2 separate regions of the Homo sapiens genome follow, and region 1 is linked to region 2. The links come from fine-mapping of genetic effects on gene expression. A gene starts in region 2. The other region holds a variant in brackets. All regions are shown on one strand. Distances are from middle to middle. Region 1 has its middle 28 kb from the start of LINC02448. Region 2 holds the start of SLC16A7 (solute carrier family 16 member 7).

What was found. PIP is the estimated chance that this variant, and not a neighbour inherited with it, causes the effect.
Region 1: its variant is the best candidate, but not a certain one, in a credible set for the expression of SLC16A7 in whole blood (INTERVAL, PIP 0.66).

Annotation. Positions count from the first base shown.
Region 1 is chr12:59,493,231-59,498,618 of GRCh38, forward strand. No RefSeq gene overlaps it. Among named protein-coding and RNA genes, the nearest start is that of LINC02448, 28 kb to the right of the region's middle. The variant A/T (reference allele first, on the strand shown) is at 2,544.
Region 2 is chr12:59,593,825-59,599,212 of GRCh38, forward strand. SLC16A7 (solute carrier family 16 member 7) reads left to right here and starts at 2,205. Exons shown (of 6, transcript NM_001270623.2): 1 at 2,205-2,412. RefSeq lists a silencer at 2,134-2,203 and enhancers at 2,674-2,813, 2,864-3,013.

The sequences.
Region 1 (5,388 bases), 100 kb before region 2:
TAAGTAACATACACATTTAAGATTTGAGAAAAGAAGTAAGGTTGCAGTCTATTTCTGTTTCACTTACTAATTATATGCCTTTCAAATGCTATGAGTGAGGGATAGAAATAGACAGCATTTGAGTTCTAAAGGATTACATGAACTATGTATTTCTTTTTAAAATCAGTGGACAAATTGAAAACCAAGATGAGAATTCCGTAAGATACAGTCTTCAATGCCAGTAACATTCAACTATCTTTGTTTTATCTTTGCCCCAAGAAAACAAGTATTTCCTGGCTATTGAGTGATGTATTCATTGGTGTTGGACTCAAATCTAAGAAATCTAAAAATGGAAAGTTCGAGCTACTGAGCAACATGTTGGTGATGGCCCGCATTTTCAGAGTTTGTTGGAGTAAAGGATACATGACTACCTCCCATAGAATAAAAGTGGGTCACTTGAGCAAGCACTGCAATCTCGGGCTACCTTGGGTCATGTCCATGAGAGGTCTGAGGAGACCCTGGCAGAAGGCAGAGGGGAGCAAGCTGCTGGGTGCCTCGGGGGTGAGCAGATATATACATGACCAATGAGAACAGACAATGCGATGCATTTCCAAGATCTGCAAAAGACAGATTTCCAGAATTCCACAGTCTCTAGAAAACTCCCGAATCCAATCCAAAATCAAGAAAAGGTGTTCGTTTTAAACCTCTGCCAGACTAAGAGCACTAACAGCTCACAACAATCTTGGTCAAATAGGAATATACCTGCCACTCACCTCTCCTGTGTCTCAGAGGAATTTGAGGGGCGAAATGGGGGCAAAATACACCATAGGCAGGAAAATAATGATAAAGGCTACTAGGCCTTTCTTTTCCATTGCAGTTAGTACCCCTGATATAGCTATGTGCAAAAAGTGGCCAGAAATCAAAGCATGAGTGATCAAATGTAAAAGTTATTTCCAGGAGAAGATAAAAGCCTCAAAGCTGAAATCTGGACATTAGTGGTAGGTAGCAAAATAGAAATGGAAGAAGACAACTTGTCAAAAATGCCTACTTTGTGCCAGTTTATATACATTATCTGATCTTTATGGTAATTGTAGGAAAAGGATGTTATAGTACCCACTTTATTATTGATAACATCAGGCCTCAGAGAGGTTAAGTTCCACTTCTGAGGTCAAACATCTAGTGATAGAGACAGGATTGAATCCAAATCTCTCCAACACTTTTTCTTTGCACCCCATAGAGGACCTGAGGCCACTTACTTAGCAAGTCTTGACGACCTTTTTTATTTTCTACATCTTCACCCAAGACCCTCCTGCTATCTACCCATTCTATAGAATCAGACTTCTACTTTTCCCTATTTTTAGATGTATTTGGAGAATGTAGTCTATCATCCTGGCTTTTTCCTTTTAGAACAAAAGAAAACAAAGCAATGCAGAAAAGGACATGAACACAGTGTAGGAAAAAAGAATGCCATGGAAAGTTAGCCCTCCCAGTATCTCTTTGACTTTTTATTCAGGTATCTTCTCCTTGATTCACTCTACTCCAGACACACTGACCCTTACTTGTGAGCCAGTCAAGCATGGTTCCACTGCAGAGTCTTTGCACTGAAAGCCTTCTCTTTCCCCAAATGATCTGCATAGCTAATTCTCTCATCTCTTGCCTTGAGGGAGGTGCTATCATCCTCATACCAACTGCTCTTTTAGCCCTTTACTGATCATCCTACTTAAAATTATAACTTGCTCCACACTCAGTTACTCTGATCCCTCTTGCTTTGCCCAATTTTTTTGTTTTATTTTTCCCATAACACTGATCACCTTCCCACACTTACTTATTCTTTACGTTTTTTTTACTTCCTGTTTCTTCCTATCACATGAATATAAGATCTTTCGGACTGTGGATCTGTCATTGTTTTACCTCAAGCATCTAAAAGAGTGCCTAGCACATGGTAGGTACGTGCCACAGATTTATTAAACAAATGAATGACTGAATACTGATTTTTACTCCCTACCATAGCTATCACATACTACTTTGACTTCCTGGCATCTTGCTTTTTGCATTGCTTGCTGGTCTTCCACTAATCATCTTGGAAGGGGGCATTCTTAAGTTTTATCCCATCATACAGTTCTGGGTTTCAGCTGCAGAGTCCTTGAGTTTGCCCACCCCAGCACTGACTGAGCTCCAGCCCTCATTGTAATAATGTTTGTCAAAGTCAAGTGACAAAAAAAATCTTAATTTTTTATACCACTTCTATTGTCAACAAACTTTAGGGATTTATTAATTATGGCCACTGCTTTTGATAAGACATATAAAATTCAATGAAAAAATACTGTTTTACCACAATGAATTTTGATATGTGAGTAAATTCTAGTATTTATTAGGTAAGCTGTTTTCCAAATTCTACATATTGATATTTGATTTCACTTTATAATATAGGCATAAACTAATGTTTGCATGTAATATATGGTAGCTGATTTTGCATAAAACTCAGAAATAAATGTGTGTCTGAGATTGAAATAAAAATAAATTTAACACTGTCTATGGATGTGAAATTCATAATCCGTGATCCT[A/T]CAATGAAAGATTTGTAGAGAAAATTATCTATTCAAGTCCGTTCCCATGTGTATCCATTTAGTGAAACTTTACTTGCAAGAATCTGTAAAAATGCTAATAAACCACATTTCTCCCAGCTTAGGCCTAGCTCTTTATTTGTTTCTGGCTTTGAGATAACTTTGAATAGGCAATATGGTGTCACCATGGGTAATGAATGATGCATGTATAAAATAGTGACCTTAAAACAGCACATTTCTCTTAAAGGAATCAATTTACACACCATTGCTACTTAAATTTTATGAGCAGTTATGTATCAGGTCTTTCCTATATAAATGATAGAAAATCTATTTTAATCAACATTAATTTCCATGAAATTGTAACTTTGCTAGTGTCCATTAACAAGAATCAACTATATGTGGGAAATAGTTTTAAGAAAACAAAGATTAGGGAAAAATGCAGGAAAGATATAATAAAAAATGCACTTTGCTTCAAAGTTAAATGTTTTGGAAAAAATACAGAAAATCTCAGCAATGTGCCTGGGGCATAGTAATACTAGCAATCTCTAGCAGATTCTCCCAATGTAAGCACATTTAGAACAAATGGTTGTAAATTAGAAGAAACTCTAGTAAGTCTCCAATGAAGACATAGTATTATAGCACAGGTAATTAGCCATGATGCATATTTTTTAGTTCCCTCCCTTTAAATACTTTCTTTCTTCCAATTTTAATCTTACAGAATCACAATTTGATGAACTATTAATTTTTTGCTTACCCGTGTAATCCAGAAATTCCTAGTGAACAATGCTACAGGGGTAGATAAAATGTATACATTTAAATTTATACCCTGGATTTGCTATTGTTTGCAGATATCCTCCACTTTCTTACCAAAACAAAATAATGCCAGAAAGACTCTAGCCCTGAATGAACCTAACCATCTACTTTTTTTTATCTTTTGGATTCATATGGAATATTATGAAAGGGATCCAATCACAAAACCAGGTTAACTAGTATCACTATAAACATTGTCTCGCAAAAGTCAAATGAGTACTTACCACCACGTGAAAATTCCACTGTGTTTCTGTATTTTACTCTCTCATTATCCCTGGCCACTATTTTACTTATTCTTAACTCTCCTCTCATCTCCTTACCCACCACCATCGCTGCACCTTTCAGGTGATGCCTTACCTTATGCATCCTGTCAAAAGAAGAAATCAGACAGAAAGGGGCTCACTTTCCCTTGCTCTGTACTGAGGCTCTTGGTCAAATCCCAATTCATCACTTACTAGATATGGGACCTGTGCAAGTTGCTTATATTTTTGTGTCCCTCTATAAAATGCTGATAACAATACCAGCCTTAAAAGTTATTAGAAAGATTAATAAATTACATTAAAATATTATTAAAATAAAATTAATATACACAAAAACATATAACAGAAAAGGGATCAGCACATAACAAAAACAATGTGTAAGTTATCATCATCATTTATTATTCTTTTCCATTAGAACAGAAAAAGTGATCTTTTGTCAGAAATTCTCCACCTGTCCCCATCTTTTCCAAAAGTTTATGCTTCCTTTATTTATTTTTCCAGATCATCAACCTTCCCCACTTCACGTACCTTTCCCATTATTATATGAACAGGCTCTTCTATATTCTTTCTCTAAAAAGTAGTTTCCCTCAATTCCAAGTCTTCAATTTTTACCCTCATTCTCAACAAACTTTTTCTGACAAGATTTTGAACAGTAGAAAAGGCCTGAAAATTGTTCCTTGGGTTTGACCACGTGGAGAACACTCACAGCCCTTTCTGAAGCAGTCAAGACAGCCGACCATCCCATTCTTGAAACCTTCTCTTTTCTTGGCATCCATAACACTAAAACCACCTTTGCAAAAATTATAACGGTGAGAAAATTATGGCAGTAAATGACATCTAATCTAACCCTCCCGCCCCTGGCATCTTCTCTTCCCTTAATCGTTCTCGGGCTTAGGCTAACTTTGGAAAGCATTTAGTTTACAGTTTAAATGATTACAGCCCACATTTTCTTAATCCAGTCTATCATTGATGGGCATTTGGGTTCGTTTCAAGTCTTTGCTATTGTGAATAATGCCGCAATAAACATACGGGTGCATGTGTCTTTATAGCAGCATGATTTATAATCCTTTGGGTATATACCCAGTAATGGGATGGCTGGGTCAAATGGCATTTCTAGTTCTAGATCCTTGAGGAATCGCCACACTGTCTTCCACAAAGGTTGAACTACTTTACAGTACCACCAACAGTGTAAAAGTGTTCCTATTTCTCCACATCCTCTCCAGCACCTGTTGTTTCCTGACTTTTTAATGATCACCATTCTAACTGGTGTGAGATGGCATCTCATTGTGGTTTTGATTTGCATTTCTCTAATGGCCAGTGATGCAATGTTCATCAGGGATATTGGTCTAAAATTCTCTTTTTTTGTGTCTCTGCCAGGCTGTTGTATCAGGATGATGCTGGCCTCATAAAATGAGTTAGGGAGGATTCCCTCTTTTTCTATTGACTGGAATAATTTCAGAAGGAATGGTACCAGCTCCTCCTTGTACCTCTGGTAGAATTCAGCTGTGAATCCGTCTGGTCCTGGACTTTTTTCGGTTGGTAAGCTATTAATTATTGCCTCAATTTCAGAGCCTGTTATTGGTCTATTCAGGGATGCAACTTCTTCCTGGTTTAGTCTTGGGAGGGTGTATGTGTCCAAGAATGTATCCATTTCTTCTAGATTTTCTAGTTTATTTGCCTAGAGGTGTTTATAGTATTCTCTGATGGTAGTTGGTATTTCTGTGGGATCAGTGGTGATATCCCCTTTATCATTTTTTATTGCATCTATTTGATTCTTC
Region 2 (5,388 bases):
AAAAGGTTTAGACAAGTTTGATATGGAAAAGAGGGCAGTGAATGATAAAAGACAGAAAAATGTGAGAAGATTGTGTATGACTGAGGAATGAAGAAGGGAGAAAGAACCTAAACCACAAGGATGTGGGTATATAGTAAAAGACATGTGGACTTCATGAGTATATATGTGATGTACGTATTCACAGTTTGCTCATCTGTGGAATATGAGTTGCTAGAATGCTAAGTGTATTGCTATTTGTTTTTCCCACTGTTATTTCAGCTTATGAATATAAATCAAGGCAAACATTTTACCAGAGCATTCCAAGTTCTAATCATATGGCTTATTTTTTCCCTAAATTGTATTTTTTTCTCAATTTCTTAACAATATTAAACTGTAAGTCATAGGATAAACTGGCTGAATTTATTCTTAGCTGATTCTCCCTCCTTTCAGATACCTTTCTAGTCCAATCAAATTTTACATAACATACCTAGCTATCACAACAAAGCAATTTAGAAATGAGTTCCCAAATACTAACTCTGTGACAGTAGGTAAATTAGATCCAGAGTTTTAATTGTTGAAAAAACAAGACTTAAAAAGAAGGTTACGATATCATGCTATAAGTAGTGATGTTTGGCATTCAGCAATAGGTTAAACAGGTCAAGAACATGGGACTATAAGAAAAAAACAACAAAAAAGAAAAATCAAAGAGAAGGAAAAGGGAGAATAGGATCAAAATTCAGAAAGCATATGGTCTTTCTTCTTCCTCTTCTTTGACAGGAAATAAAAGTGATGAATGAGCAGGAAAAATATCAATAGCAAACACTCAAGACTATGACCTTGAAATGTGCCTTTATGTTGTTTCTTTTAAATGTTTAACTTTTTTTAATTAAATGAAGTGTTTATAGTCACTGCTAGACATTTCATCATTATCAAAGGCCTATTATGTCTTATACAAATGTCTATTTAAGCATTTTTAGCTTAAAAATATAAAATCCTTTCTGTAATTTTCTGCCTTTTTTTCATTTTCAAATATCATTCTTTCAATAAAATTATCTTCCAGTAATTTTGATGTTATTAATCACGATTATTTTTTCATCTTGTATTATGCCTACCAGCCACTTCATGTATATTATTTCACTTAAATCTTATGAAATCAACACGATTGATATTACTTTTATTTCATAGCTACAGAAATTGAAATTCAAATTTCGTCCATTACAACAGACTAGCTGTGGCAAAGACAATGTGAATTTACCCAAATGACTTAACTCTTTTTATAAATTCGTAAAATGTGAAGAATCATAGAACACACCTTAAAATGATTGTGAAATCAAGGAGGAGAAAGCTAGCTAAACTGGTAGACAAACTGCAATAGGACTTGTCAAGCCAAAACCTACAATTATTCTTTTGGATAGTTTCTTTTTCTCTAAAGTGGCAATTTAACTTAAAGATATTAAAGAAACCCAATCTATGGGGTTACTTAAATGTTCTCTTCCAGCCCTTCCTCTTTCCAGTTTTACCAAGAAGCACATTTTAGACAGGGGAAGAGACCAAACCAATGACAGCAGAATTACCATTATCTCTAGCACTATTCGTTGTCAAATAACTAAATGCTGGTTTGAAGAACTAAGTAATTTGAGAAATTAAAAATGAAAGGAATTATAAATGATTTGAAAAAAAATCCTTCTTATTTTTAATGTTTTTTGGTGCTGTTTTCTATGTCCTTCCTCCTATGGTGTCAATTATATTTTTTTCCGTGAAGTGATTTGGTTGGTGAGTCTAATCTCCAACAGTGCCCTACCTCTTTCTCCCAAAAAGGCCTCAGTTGAAAAATGGCTCAACACTTTCCCTGCAAGCTCACAATGAGGATCTCCTATTCTCCCTGCATTCGGCCAGACTCTTCTTTTTTTGCATGCTTTCCTCTCCCATGCTTGGGTTGCACAGAGCTACCGCACATCTGTCTTCTAGGTCAGGCTACAGAGTACTTCGGATACAGCAAGTTACGACCCATCTGGAAAGACAGATCTACCTGCCTTTTGGCTTTCTTCCTTGGTCAAAACTAAAATCCGAAGTGGAGTGCCCCGAGCGATAGAGAAAGTGCCTATAGCTTTGACAGCCGCTTGGAGCATGCTCAGTCGGTCTCCAGGCACCGGGAGGCGGCTCCCCCCCACCACCCCCCGGGCCGGCCTCCACCGCAGCCTGTCCGGCCCCCACCCCTGGCGCGCGCTCCTCCGCACCCACAAGGGCGTTCAGCAGCCGCGCCTCCCCTTCCCGCCACCGCCTCCTTCTCCGCTGGCTGTGGCGGGCGAGGACACGTCAGGGGCCATAAATAAATAAATAATTCCATTCACCCGTTGACAGCGAGGCGAATCGGCTGCGGTTTGCTGGGAACGGAGGGCTGCAGCGCCCACCCTGCGCCAGAGACCAGATAAAGTAAGTACAGCTGGGGAGGGAGGGGAGAGGAGGAGGAGGAGGAGGAGGTGCCGGCTAAGAGGAGGGCGAGCCTGCGTCTGCGACCCGAGCTGCCCGCGGAGCCGCACGCGTGTGTGCAAATAATGGCCAGCCTGTGACAAACGTGCCAACGCAGAGTTGGCCAGCGAGCCCTTATATAGACAAAAAAATCCCGAAGCGGCCGCGGGAGCAGAGCTCGCGTCAGCCAGTGCGCGCCGACAGCTGCCCGGGAACTGAGGGGGCGCGCGGGGTCCTGGGCAAGGAGCGCCTCGCGTGCTTTCGGCCAGGAGGTGCTCACGCTCTCGGCTTTTACACCGAGACTCAGCGTGGCGCGGTGCACCCCAGTCTCCCTGGCTCACGGGACTCCGAGGGCTGCTTCCAGTGCGGCGTGTCTCTAGTGCGCGCCCCGCCAGCATCCGGCCCCCGAGCCCCCTAGGGTGGCGTGGCTTCATTGCCGCAGAAGGTGGAGGCGGGGGTGGAGTGTGTGGAGAGAACGTCTTCTCTTTGAGCAGATGATCAGGACAGGAAGAGGCTGTGAGGGGAAGACGAAATACCGGGGGATGGGGGGGTTGTCTTTCTTCATTTTTGGTCCCCAGGAAGGATGGCAGGGGTGGAAGCAGATGGAAAACTATATGCGGGCGAGGCCTGAGCCCAGGCAGAAAGGGACCTCTGACTTGGCAAGGGTTCAGGAGGGCCTGAGCCTTCTGGTCTTGCTGGGCCACTGCACCACATTGGGGGCGCCAGGCCCGGTCAGGTGGCGCCACAGGCTGCGAGCCCGCTCACGTGCGAACTGCCTGTTTTCTCAGCGGATGCTGCATCGCGGCGCCCTTCTCCACCCCCTTTTCTCCTCTACTTCCGCGAAAAGGATTGCAGACTGCCTTGGAAAGGGCGGTCGTGCCCAGTGCCACTTTCCCGGTAGGGCTGAGGAGGGACTTCTGTAGTTCCAATTCCAGGGAAATTAAAATTTTACACACACACACACACACACACACACACACACACACACACACACACACGAGACATAGAAGAGGAAACGAGGAGTGGTTTCTCTACAATTGTTTTTTGATTTCCTTTCCTGTATTATTTCGTGTCCTCCTTCCCTCTTGGGTCCCAAAGGAGATGCGGCAGAGGAATAAAATAGCGGACAATGATGAAAGTGATGGGAAAAAGACTGGACCCAGAGGAAAGAGTGACTACTGGATGCCATTTCCTGTCACCCCATGCTTCATGGCTAACCCCAGTCTGAACTCAGAGGGTTGCAAACTTTCCACAGACAGGTTAGCTTGAATGTGTTGTGTTACTGGAACCACAAGCACTAAGTATGCATTTGGTGGAGTGTGGCTGAAAAATGAGAGTTGGGTGGGGACAGCAGAGGGCAAATGAGGGTTGAGCAAAGTGACTAATATTTAGCTCTGGTGAAGCAATCCTAACTCCAGGTTCTACTTCTGACTGAGCAGATTACATTTAAAGCAATCCAAGTGAGGGACTGAATGATCTCAGTGGAAAGGAAAGATTACAACCGTAAGAAACTCAGTGTATTGTGTAACAACTTACAAACTCAGAAACTATTTTTTGCAAATACAACAACAGTTTGCAGTTACATATTACTTTTTTCCCCCCAAGGCATGTTTGAATAATAAGTGATCTGAAATTTTAACATCTGTTTCCCGATGTTCAAATTAGTGTATCCTTCTATAAATGCTCAGTTTATTTCTAGACATTCATTTGCTCTTTGATAATGTCTGGCTTATATTTTTGGCTTTGAGCTCTTTTAAAGGGAAGGAGAGCAACATTACCTAAATAAACCTCCCTTGTCTGGAGTCATATTCCTGGATCACGGATCTGAAATAAAAGGCATCTCCAGAATTTGCTTTTAATTCTGTATTCATCCACCAAACATTTTTGAGACATTCACATGGAAAAAGGGAATTAACTTTAGAACAGATTGGTTCTGCACTTTTGTAAGGTTGAGTAATTGTTTAACAATCTGGGCTTTACCTTTTTCTTGTCTATAAAATGAGATTGGTGGTACCCACTCTGAAGTGATATTGGGAAGAATGAAGTGTGTGGTAAGTACCTAGAATACAGACGGGCTATATTTGAGCCCCTATAATCAGTCTAGACACCCTACCAGGGTTGCCAAGATGAATGAGGCTGTAATTCTGCTTTCAAGAAGTTCTCATATAGTCAGTCATTCAGGTTAATCTTTCTTGTATCCCATTTGCCTTTTAGTCCATTTTTTTTCTCCTCTTGATGGAAGAAACATATATCCAAGTAACTTGAAAGGAACTCCACAGTTGTAAGAAATGTTGGTAAGATCTGCTAAAAGGCAAATTTGAGAAGAATGTCTTTTCTCAGGAACCTGTATTCAGCCCATTTTTTGTCCATTAATAGTGATCCTTAATGAATAAAAACAGGTAATGAAGGATTTTTCTTCATGTTATGAGGGCAGGATGATCCTTCTCTGAAGATTATCTTTGTCAATGAATTGATTTCCATTATTTGAGAGAAGAGTTTGAGTTGCAGTTTCTACTACACCTTGGGCAAACCAATCCACTCACTCCTAAGAGTATAAAGTAACTGTAGTATATAATAACTATAATGACAACTCTGTAATGCTCACCATATTCCAGGCACTGTGCTACTACTGTCTGATAGCATGTAGCAACCATTTGAGGTGGATCTGTCCATATCCATATTTACAGAAAAAAGAATTTATGCCCAGAAAGTTTCATAGCTTATTCAGCTGGTACAGTTAGTAAGTGGTTGAGCTGGGGCAAGCACCGATGCGATCTGTTTGGCTTTAACCACTGTGTCATATAGCTTCTGCCTTGCATGAAGCTAAATAAGAGCAAAGACCTTACCTGTTGTTTTCTCCATAGCCCAGTACAGTGTCTGGCATGTCATGGTTCAGAACAACTGATTATAGAAAGAAGGAAAGAGGGAGGGAAGCAGAAC